Homo sapiens: one gene and its partners. The protein of the gene in region 1 purifies or fractionates together with the protein of each later gene. This does not show direct contact. Each region holds a gene or a part of one and is shown in the gene's direction. Other genes may lie near its edges. The genes, in order: GPATCH2L, PKP1 and NEFH.

Region 1 (3,651 bases):
AAGAGAACAGATTTCAATAAGAACATTCACATACATATTCTTATTTTCAGTAAGAGTATTCACATATAATGGTGTTTTTAAAACGGATGCTTTTAAAATAATTTAAGTAGTTTTATTTTAATGACCCTATTGGGACTTTAACACAAATATGTTTCCTTTTCCCTTTGCTTTTTCTTCAATTATGATGTAGCAAAGTGGGTGGAAAGAACCTAGGACAGAGAGATGGAAATGTGGTGCTAATACTCTGATACTGTCTACCAAGCTCTGTGATAGTCACTGCATTTTCCTGGGATGACAGGGTCATCACTTACGATATGTGACATTGGACAAAACCATTTCTTTTAGCACTATAAATTTATGATTCTAGGGTTCCCAGTAACCCATAATCAACCAGTTAATCAGTTGCCAAGAGTTTGTTGAACATCTGTGGGTGATCAGAATCACACTACGAGATGTAAACTTGTATTATGTAGGATTTTGTCATGGTGAATTTTTGTTTGTCATGGTGAATTTTTGTCATGGCGAACCAGCAGTTGGTGCTTGGTAAAGACTAGCTGAGGCACACATTGCTTTATTGAACATTTTGATGAACATTTCTAAAAGTTTCTAATGGACCACTTAAAATATATACAAACAAGCAAGAATAGTGAGAAGAAACTTAAAATGGCCTATAATCTCATATCCAGAGACAATCTCATTAATAACATTTTGGTGTGGTTTCCTCCAGTTGTTCTTTCCTTGTGTAGAACACATGCAGCAGTGAGAAAAATTGGGTTATCCGACACGTGCTATTTTCCCCATTATGTCATGAATTAGAATGTTTTTGACGTACAAACTAACATTTAATTTTAAATTAAAAATTATTAATAGTACCTTATGTTTGTGTGGTGTTTTCAGTTTATAAAGTCCCTTCTGCTTGCTATTTCATTGGGTCTTCAAAACAGCCCAGTAAGGTAGGACTGAGTGATTATCCCTCTTTTATAGATGGAGGATGCCTAGGTCAAAGGTAAATGGCATGCCTGTGATCATACTGCTAGTGACAAAGACCTGGGAATAATAAATCCTTGGCAAATAGCTCTGTGATGCTAGTTTAAAGGTCAATCTATTAAGATCCTGGGGGTAAAGCCTTCAGTGTACTAGAAACATAGGATTGCATATGGATTTTCTGCATTCGGTATCTGAGGCCTTCCTTCTTTTTTTAGGGTACCATACTCGCTTGAATCGTCTACCTGGAGCTGCAGCTCGATGCCTCAGAAAGGGGCGAAGAAGGCTGGTTGGGAAGGTGATACCTCTCACAGTTAGCTTGGCTCAGTGGGGAGATAATATTCCCTATGGGAGTTGTGTATCCTATTAACAATCAGAGGTGCTACAGAACTCCCTGAAGTTAATGGAGCCAACTGGAATGTGTTGGGAGTTTACAAGAGTGAACATTATGTAGAATGTGAATGGATATACAAATAAAAGATGAAACGTAATTCATATAGAAGTACTGACAAAAAAAAAAAACACTGTCATTACAGTGTCTATTGCCTGTAAACCTACAAGCCTGAGCTGTGTCTTCTGTAACTTTTGATTAATGTTATGTTATTATTGTGTAAGTTAAAATACTCTTGGCTTCTTTATGACTCCTCTTGAATTCATGAATGCATCTTTGTTCTTTCCTAATTTTGGTCTTTCATCCTAGAATTCATTAAAAAAAAAAAACAAAACTGTTACTGAGTTTCAAGAGCCCCTCCTTGGCCATGAGGGAGAACTATCTGCTGTTTATTCAGTTCTGCCTTTGCCAGGGATGGTACTAGGGACTCAGCTCATTTAATCCTTCCAGCAACCTACAAGGGCAAGCACCTTCAGCAGATGAGGAAAACTTAGGTTCGAAGAAGTTAAGGAATGTCTGATGTTACCCAGATAGGAATGGTAGAATAGAGATTTGAACCCAGGTCTACTTTTATCTTTTTACATTTTTATTGAATTTTATTTTTTACTCTACTTTGAGATTGAGGAATAAATTAAGACAGGGCTCATCCTCAGTCAGAGAAGATGGTGGTGGGCAAAGAATAAGGAAGGGAGAGGCATTGAGAGCATTAATTTGTTTGTTCACTTGGTAAGCATTTAGAATGCCTGCTAGGTGGCACAATATGTGCCACAGTCTGGCTTCCCTTAAGGGGATACTGTTTTATAGTCTGACCAGGGAACAGTTTTCTGAAGTTTTAAGCATGCAAAAGAAATGAGACTGTTTATTTCCAGACGAGCCCAAGATTCTTATTTCTTTTTATCTTTAAATTCAAGTTCAAATCTTTTTTTTTTTTTTGAGATGGAATCTCGCTCTGTGACCTAGGCTGGAATGCAATGGTGCGATCTCGGCTCACTGTAACTTCCTGCCTTCCAGGTTCAAGCAATTCTCCTGCCTCAGCCTCCCAAGTAGCTGGGATTACAGGCGCCCCACCATGCCTGGCTAATTTTTTTGTATTTTTAGTACAGATGGGGTTTTACCATGTTGGCTAGGCTGGTCTCAAACCCCTGACCTCAGGTGATCCACCCGCCTCGGCCTCCCAAAGTTCTGGGATTACAGGCATGAGCCACCGTGCCCGGCCTCAAGTTCAAATCTTGAATTAGAAGACATTTGATTATTGGAAAACTGATACCTTTCAAATTACTCATTTTACAGACAAAACGCTGCTTTTTCTGTTTTGGGAGCTTATTGTTAACAGGGATAGCTAGCAGAATAGCAGTACATGGGGTGGAAGAAGGAGAGGTTTTACTTTTATTGTTTAGGCTTGACAGATAATGTTCCCCCTGCCACCTGTGTTACTTTCTTTCAGCTCTTATAAAATAAGAGCCATCCACTTCCATGGAAACAAGTCACTTTATCTTGAAGGTTTCCCTTTAGCTTGCCTGGAAGGGAGTGAGGGCCTGTTGGATGTGCCTTTAATGATTTCAAATGAATAGGATAATATTTACTTGTTTAATTCATCTTCATCACCTTAAAGGGATATTTATCATTTCTAGAAGAGGTCACCGCTCTGCCCCCCTTCTTCCCCCTCCCCCATCTCTCTTCTGCTTTTCTAAATTGTAATCATAAATAATGAGTTTCATTCACAGCTCCCTGCCAGTGAGCTGCTAATTACACAAAGTACTGCTTGTAATTTACACAGTAATAAACTGTAAATTTAAACATTACGGCACTTTAAGTTAATAATTTTTCTGCTGTAACAAATAGCTCATTTTTCACCCATCTTTTCCCTTGGCCCCCCTACCATGTCTGTCTGTGACCAGGAGGCATAGCTATAAGAAATGCAGAACATGAAGAATATAGTATATGAAAACTTCTCATTTAACTCCACTACCGCCCGGACTCTGACCTCAGAGTAATTTTTCTACAGCCAGTTCTGCTGAAATGTGTAGCCTGATGTTTAGCACGGTCCACACACATAGATGAATATAGACACAAATGTGTTTGAAGAACAGCCTTGATGTTCTTGGCATTCACGCCCGTGACTTGTGTTCTCTCAACACAACAGTTACTCAGATGTGTGTTGGTATGCTTTCCCAGGTGCCATGGTAGGTAAGCATTGTGAATGTACTCAAGTTAAATGAAGAGTGAATTGCCGTTTTCCAATTTTTTGGAAATGGTTCGTTTCTGAACTCTTTGTG
Region 2 (3,651 bases), on another chromosome or scaffold:
ACCCCACAGGTTGCCTGGAAGAGTAGCCACTGCTCCTTGTACCCCAGGAAGGACAGTCAGGACCAGCCATCCTTGGTCCTGTGATAGAAGTGGCTTCTCAGTTCCTCTCCACTAGTGCTCTTTTCTCTCTTGTCACTGAGGGAGTATTGAGCCACTGAGGACTGGAGGAAGGGCCCCTGGAGCCTGTCACAAAATGCCTGTCTGCACTCATGCTCTCCCTGAAATGCCACAGATCAGACAAGCACCTTGCCCTGGTCATGAAGGCCCCGGGCAGGAAGAAGGTGGCTTCTGTGGCCTGGAGACCTTGCAGAAGGAGGTTGCTCTGAACCTGCCTACCCATCTTGAACTGCCCCTGAAGTATTGCTCCCCTGTGTTTTCAGGCTGTCCCTGTGTGCCTCAGGGTGTCTGGCCTCCTTTTCTTCCCAGACTGTGTGGAAGGCAAGGGGAAACTGAGGGGGATGTCACCACCCAGCAAAAGATCTTTGCCAGGGAAATGACCTCCCTGAGGATGGGGAAGGAAACACTTATCCACCTTCCAGATCTTTATAACTTCACTTGGAATCTCTTCCTAAAGCTGAACCTGAATCTCACTTGCCCTAACCCAAGCGCTCCCCCGCCACTGTGAATACAGATCACACCCAGCTCAGTGAAAGGAGCTTCCTTTCACCTGTCCTGTCTCCTTCCAGGGAAGTCCTAACAACACCAGCACCATTGCCTGCTTTGTCTCACTGCCTGCTTAGCCATCTGTGATTTTTTATTTCAGCCTTTGGCCTGAAATTCTCTTTCTCCCTTCTTCATAGAAGTACTGTTTCCCATCTAAAATTGCTAAGCCTCTATTTCTCTCTGATCAGAGGTAGGGGCTGGAGGCAACATTGAGCCAGGGGAGGTGCCTGCTCCCTTTCTGTAGTTCCTGTGTCTATTCAGCCCTCATCAGGGGAGAGGGGGGCATGCTTGTACGAACTCCGCAGCCTGCACAGTGAAGGAGCTCGCCTCAGGAGCCCCCACTTTGATGGCTTTTTGTATTTGTGTTTGACTATGTCTCAGCATGAGCTTCTGCCCGAGTGTTCTGCTCATTAGAGTTTCTAGAAAGTTGTCCTTTCCTGACCACAGGCATCACTTCTGGGGTTGTTTTCTTGGGACCGAAGCTGAGATTGCAGATGGTAATGGCTATGTGTGCTTTAGCTTGTTCCATTGGCGAAACATACCAATTAAACTTCAAATGAACCAATTCTTGTTTCTTTACAATGTACCTTGGCTTGAAGTTGGAGTTTTAGCCAGAATTTCCGTTGGCCTGTTACAACACATGCAAAAATGCTGGGTATTCTAGGGTGTTTTGCAGCAAATGCTGCTTCTCTGGATCCTGCTCCTTGACAGAGATTTTTTAAAAGTACAAATTCCTCCCCCGACCCCATACCATTGTAAGTATCATTGTGCCAATTGTTCTAGGTTTAGAAATCTGGGAAGCGCTTCTGCGATGGGCCGTGACCCTTACAAGATGTGTAATGTTTGAACAAAATAAAATGGACGAATGTTAGATATCTTCATGTGAAGTTCCTTCTAGGCATACGCTGGACACATGCGCACACATGTATACACACATAGGTCACACATGCATATATGCATGTATACACAATACACCCCACACATGAATCCACACACCCACACATGCACACACGTACACACACATAACATGCACACACTTATGTTATGTGTGTGTACATGTGTGTCCTTGCAGCTGTGCTGTGTCAGGAGCCCAGCCTGGCATCTACCTGGTGTGCGATCTTGGACAAGTCGCTGCCTCTCTTTGGGTCTCTGCAGCTGTCAGAGGTTGGATTAGATCATCTCCAAAGTGCTTTGCAATGGGAACACTCTTTGGAAATAGATTTTATAACTCTCTAGCTCTGCAAACCATTTGCCCAGACCGCCAGCAGCTGTTCTGCCAAAAAGCTCTTCCCCTTAAGGCATGCCACTCATCGTGTCTCTCTCGTAAACATCCTAACATATTAAAAAGTCTTCTCATCCACTCTTCTCAAACTTGGCTACATATTGGAATCACCTGGAAATTTCAAACAACACAAATGCGTGAGTCCCACCCCCAGAGATTCTGACTTAGTGAGTATGAAAGATGGCACGGGCATCAGGACTTCAGAAACTCCCAGGTGATTCTCATGTGTAGCCAAGTTGGAGAACCACTGTTCTAGTCCCTGTCCTTCACTCACACAGATCCAGCATGGGGGAGCACCCCTATACAATGACATACACCCATGTCTTTCTCTCATACACACACACACACGCACACTTAATGTAGTAGTTGCTGGCGAGAGCCTTTGACTCTGAACCCCACCTGAACCCGTCAACCCTTGCCCACTCTAACCCACCACCCTGCCCCCTCACGCCCATCCTGTCCCCACAGGATGCTCCCATGCTCTGCCCAGTCCTCAGGCTTGGTGGTGGCCATGAACAGATCTGCTGAAAGAGCAGCAGGATTGTGGCAGAGCTAGGTCTGAACGCGTCCCAGCAGAGCCTGAGGGAGTCACATGGGCTGGAGAGGGAGAAGAGAGAACACAGGCCACAGCAACCCAGTTTGTTTCAGCATTTCTGTTCAGTACGTACACCCAGGAAAAGGTCAAGAGCCACACCAAAGTGCCCGGTGAGGCTGTGCTGAACTCCTTGCCCTCCCCATCTCCTAGAAGCTGCCGAGTTGGGGAGGCATGTCCACGGTGCTCCCAGCAGCCCAGCAGAGGGGGCAGGAGGCTGGCCAGCCCAGTCCTCCCTCCAGGAGCTGGAACCATCCCGCAGACACAGTCCACTCCTGCCCACTCCGAAACACCTCTGAGGGTATTCTCTCAGCAGTAGCTTCCTGGCAGTTCTTGTTATCTCATTTAAATTCCTATTGCTGTGGGCCTAGCTTTTCTGGGCACCATGGGTGAAAGAGATTTCAGAGGGTGAAGTAAAGGCATTTTCAAGACTAAAAGAAAATGAGCTTCCTTTCTCAAGCTTTTCATGCTGAAGGACAGGTGGGCTTTATTCAAAAGTAGAATATGCTAGAAGAAGCATCGGCCTTAAGGGAGACAGAGTAAGCAAGAATGTGTTCCGAGCAGCTTGCCCTGTGACGAAGGAGAAGGATTTGAGGGGAGGGAAAGTGGAAAAAGCGGATTTCCCTATGACCTCTGTCTGCAGGAAGGCTGATGTCCTGAGAGCCTTCTCTATGTAGAACCTGGGCCTGGGATTGGGGGTGTGGAGTGTGGATCTACCAAAGGTGAAGATTCCTTGCTTCAGGGAGCTCCCAGCTTGGTTGGGGAGACCCAGGCCCTACCTTCTGGGAGGAGTGCACACACACACACACACACACACACACACACACACACAGTGTACAGAAGCCACATTCCAAGGAGCCCACAAGCCAGTGCAGAGTCAGCCGCTGGATTGAGTGCTGACATGGTTATGCTGGCAAGTTTGGAGTGCTCAGAGCTGGGTGCGGTCATCTTTAGGAGAAGCTGATTTTTGTGCAAGGTTTTGAATGCAGGGGGAGGGTTGGAGAAGAAGAGAAAGAATGTTTCAGGTGCAGTAAGTGTGACCTATTTGAAAGCTTGGAGGTGGAAGAGGATGAGTCATCCCTGCAAAGGCTCACCTGCCCCTACTGGAGAGAGA
Region 3 (3,651 bases), on another chromosome or scaffold:
TCGCTATGTTGGCCAGGCTGGTCTCGAACTCCTGACCTCAGGTGATCCGCCTACCTCGGCCTCCCAAAGTGCTGGGATTACAGGCGTGAGCCACTGTGCCCAGCCAATGAGTCTTGAGAGTGACTTACTTTCATTCTGAAATGATTTAGACGGTGGAAGTTCCTTATCCCCTCCCCAGATCCAGCCAGCCAGAGGCCTGCTTTGAAGGGAAAAGAGGTGCTTGAGTCAGGGACCTTTCAAACTCTGTCCTTTAGAGTTTCTTAGCTCTGCAAGCATTCATTTCTTGGGGATATAAAGTGGAGATGATAATAAGGGCAACCATGTCATAGGGTTGTCAGGAAGATGAGCTAATCCCATTCCCAAGCTAATCCAGGAAGCACAGGTACCACTGGGCTGCTACAGAGGGAACCCTTAGTCAGTGGCAGCCTTGAGAAATCCAGTCTGAGGAATAAGACCGGGGGGAGCAGGGCTAGGGAGCAGGACTGATTCCCTGAGGACTTGTCCCAGTTCTGACTGGTGACCTGTGGCTTCCTACCTCTTGGCTCTCGTCTGTAATCTTGCTACTCAAAGCATGGCACATGAACCAGCAGAATTGGCATCATTCAAGAGCTTATCAGAAAGATAGTCTCTTGGTTGGGTGTAGTGACTCATGCCTGTAATCCCAGCACTTTGGGAGACCAAGGCAGACAGATTGTTTCAGTTCAGAGACCAAGCTGGGCAGCATGGCAAAACCCCATCTCTACAAAAAATACAAAAAAAAAAAAAATAGCTGGGCATGGTGGCACATGCCTTTAGTCTCAGCTACTCAGGAGGCTGACGTGGGAGGATCACCTGAGCCTGGGAGTTGGAGGCTTCAGTGAGCTATGATCGTGCCACTGCACTCCAGCCTGTCATCACAGAGTGAGACACTGTCTCAAAAATAACAACAACACAACAACAACAAAAGACAGACGCTCAGCCCCTCCCCAGACCTGCTGAATCAGAATCTGCATTTTGATAAGATCCCCGGTCATCTGTGTGCTGCTAAATTTGGGAAGTACTAGTCTGAGGGGTAACCCCCACACTTACTCTGAGACAAGCATTCTGCCAAGTCTTTTCCATTCATTGTCTCACTGAAACAACCCTCTGACGTAGGGACTCTAATGACCCTCTTTTTCCAGTGAGGAAATTGAGGCTCAAAGAGTTGGTGTGTCTTGGCCAAGGTCACCCATCTAGTGAGGAGCAAAGCCAAGAGGAGAAACTGCGGCCTCTACCCTATTCCTGAAACTCAAAAGATGGTAATACAGGGTGATGAGAGACACTCGCGATTCAAATGGGAGCGTTCTAAGACCTCTTAAACCCAAATTTATAAAAGTAGAATTGTGGTCGGGTGCGGTGGCTCACACCTGTAATCCCAGCACTTTGGGAGGCCTAGGCGGGTGGATCGGCTGAGGTCAGGAGTTCGAGACCAGCCTGACCAATATGGTGAAACCCCCGTCTCTACTAAAAATACAAAAATTAACTGGACGTGGTGGCGTGCGCCTGTACTCCCAGCTACTCAGTAGGCTGAGACAGGAGAATTGCTTGAAGCTGGGGGAATTGCTTGAATCTGGGAGGCAGAGGTTGCAGTGAACTGAGATTGTACCACTGGACTCCAGCCTAGGTGACAGAGCAAGACTCCGTCTCAAAAAAAGGAAAAAAAAAAGTGGAATTGTTTGCTCAGGCTCCCAGGGTTCTCTTGAATAATATTTTAGTTTGAGGGACAATAAATTTAACTTTTGTTAAATTTATTTAGGAGCTTTCTCTTGAGGGCCATTTTTTATGGGGCAAAAGTTGTTTTATTTCAAAAGTTTCAGGCTTAGCTGTGTTGAAGAAGACCAGCTGTTCCAGCCTGGGCAACACAGTGAGACCCTCTCAAAAACAACAACATCAACAAAAAAAGACCAGTCCCACCGGGGTACACATTCTGGGTGGTCACTGGAATGATTTGCCAAGTGACTTTCTCTAGTCTCATAATGCCCACCATTCACATTCCTGTTCCACCAAAACCCATATCATTCGATGTCAGTGACCTTCAGGATAGTCTAGGAAGAACCCAAATAGTGAATTTGCCCTGAGTTTATACTAATGTGTTCCGTGATCCATCCTGCAGAAAACTCCTGGAAGGTGAAGAGTGTCGGATTGGCTTTGGCCCAATTCCTTTCTCGCTTCCAGAAGGACTCCCCAAAATTCCCTCTGTGTCCACTCACATAAAGGTGAAAAGCGAAGAGAAGATCAAAGTGGTGGAGAAGTCTGAGAAAGAAACTGTGATTGTGGAGGAACAGACAGAGGAGACCCAAGTGACTGAAGAAGTGACTGAAGAAGAGGAGAAAGAGGCCAAAGAGGAGGAGGGCAAGGAGGAAGAAGGGGGTGAAGAAGAGGAGGCAGAAGGGGGAGAAGAAGAAACAAAGTCTCCCCCAGCAGAAGAGGCTGCATCCCCAGAGAAGGAAGCCAAGTCACCAGTAAAGGAAGAGGCAAAGTCACCGGCTGAGGCCAAGTCCCCAGAGAAGGAGGAAGCAAAATCCCCAGCCGAAGTCAAGTCCCCTGAGAAGGCCAAGTCTCCAGCAAAGGAAGAGGCAAAGTCACCGCCTGAGGCCAAGTCCCCAGAGAAGGAGGAAGCAAAATCTCCAGCTGAGGTCAAGTCCCCCGAGAAGGCCAAGTCCCCAGCAAAGGAAGAGGCAAAGTCACCGGCTGAGGCCAAGTCTCCAGAGAAGGCCAAGTCCCCAGTGAAGGAAGAAGCAAAGTCACCGGCTGAGGCCAAGTCCCCAGTGAAGGAAGAAGCAAAATCTCCAGCTGAGGTCAAGTCCCCGGAAAAGGCCAAGTCTCCAACGAAGGAGGAAGCAAAGTCCCCTGAGAAGGCCAAGTCCCCAGAGAAGGAAGAGGCCAAGTCCCCTGAGAAGGCCAAGTCCCCAGTGAAGGCAGAAGCAAAGTCCCCTGAGAAGGCCAAGTCCCCAGTGAAGGCAGAAGCAAAGTCCCCTGAGAAGGCCAAGTCCCCAGTGAAGGAAGAAGCAAAGTCCCCTGAGAAGGCCAAGTCCCCAGTGAAGGAAGAAGCAAAGTCCCCTGAGAAGGCCAAGTCCCCAGTGAAGGAAGAAGCAAAGACCCCCGAGAAGGCCAAGTCCCCAGTGAAGGAAGAAGCTAAGTCCCCAGAGAAGGCCAAGTCCCCAGAGAAGGCCAAGACTCTTGATGTGAAGTCTCCAGAAGCCAAGACTCCAGCGAAGGAGGAAGCAAGGTCCCCTGCAGACAAATTCCCTGAAAAGGCCAAAAGCCCTGTCAAGGAGGAGGTCAAGTCCCCAGAGAAGGCGAAATCTCCCCTGAAGGAGGATGCCAAGGCCCCTGAGAAGGAGATCCCAAAAAAGGAAGAGGTGAAGTCCCCAGTGAAGGAGGAGGAGAAGCCCCAGGAGGTGAAAGTCAAAGAGCCCCCAAAGAAGGCAGAGGAAGAGAAAGCCCCTGCCACACCAAAAACAGAGGAGAAGAAGGACAGCAAGAAAGAGGAGGCACCCAAGAAGGAGGCTCCAAAGCCCAAGGTGGAGGAGAAGAAGGAACCTGCTGTCGAAAAGCCCAAAGAATCCAAAGTTGAAGCCAAGAAGGAAGAGGCTGAAGATAAGAAAAAAGTCCCCACCCCAGAGAAGGAGG

Evidence for each region.
Region 2: the proteins of GPATCH2L (region 1) and PKP1 purify together in Homo sapiens (affinity purification with mass spectrometry; one large-scale study listed by BioGRID and IntAct). This does not show direct contact.
Region 3: the proteins of GPATCH2L (region 1) and NEFH purify together in Homo sapiens (affinity purification with mass spectrometry; 2 studies listed by BioGRID and IntAct, with this or other methods). This does not show direct contact.

Annotation. Positions count from the first base shown.
Region 1 is NC_000014.9:76,172,344-76,175,994, forward strand, and holds part of GPATCH2L (G patch domain-containing protein 2-like), read left to right. Parts: exon of another isoform or gene 1-1,202; coding exon 1,203-1,282; exon of another isoform or gene 1,283-3,177; intron 3,178-3,651.
Region 2 is NC_000001.11:201,286,358-201,290,008, forward strand, and holds part of PKP1 (plakophilin-1), read left to right. Parts: intron 1-3,651. UniProt on the Homo sapiens protein: A component of desmosome cell-cell junctions which are required for positive regulation of cellular adhesion.
Region 3 is NC_000022.11:29,486,718-29,490,368, forward strand, and holds part of NEFH (neurofilament heavy polypeptide), read left to right. Parts: intron 1-2,131; coding exon 2,132-3,651. UniProt on the Homo sapiens protein: Neurofilaments usually contain three intermediate filament proteins: NEFL, NEFM, and NEFH which are involved in the maintenance of neuronal caliber. NEFH has an important function in mature axons that is not subserved by the two smaller NF proteins.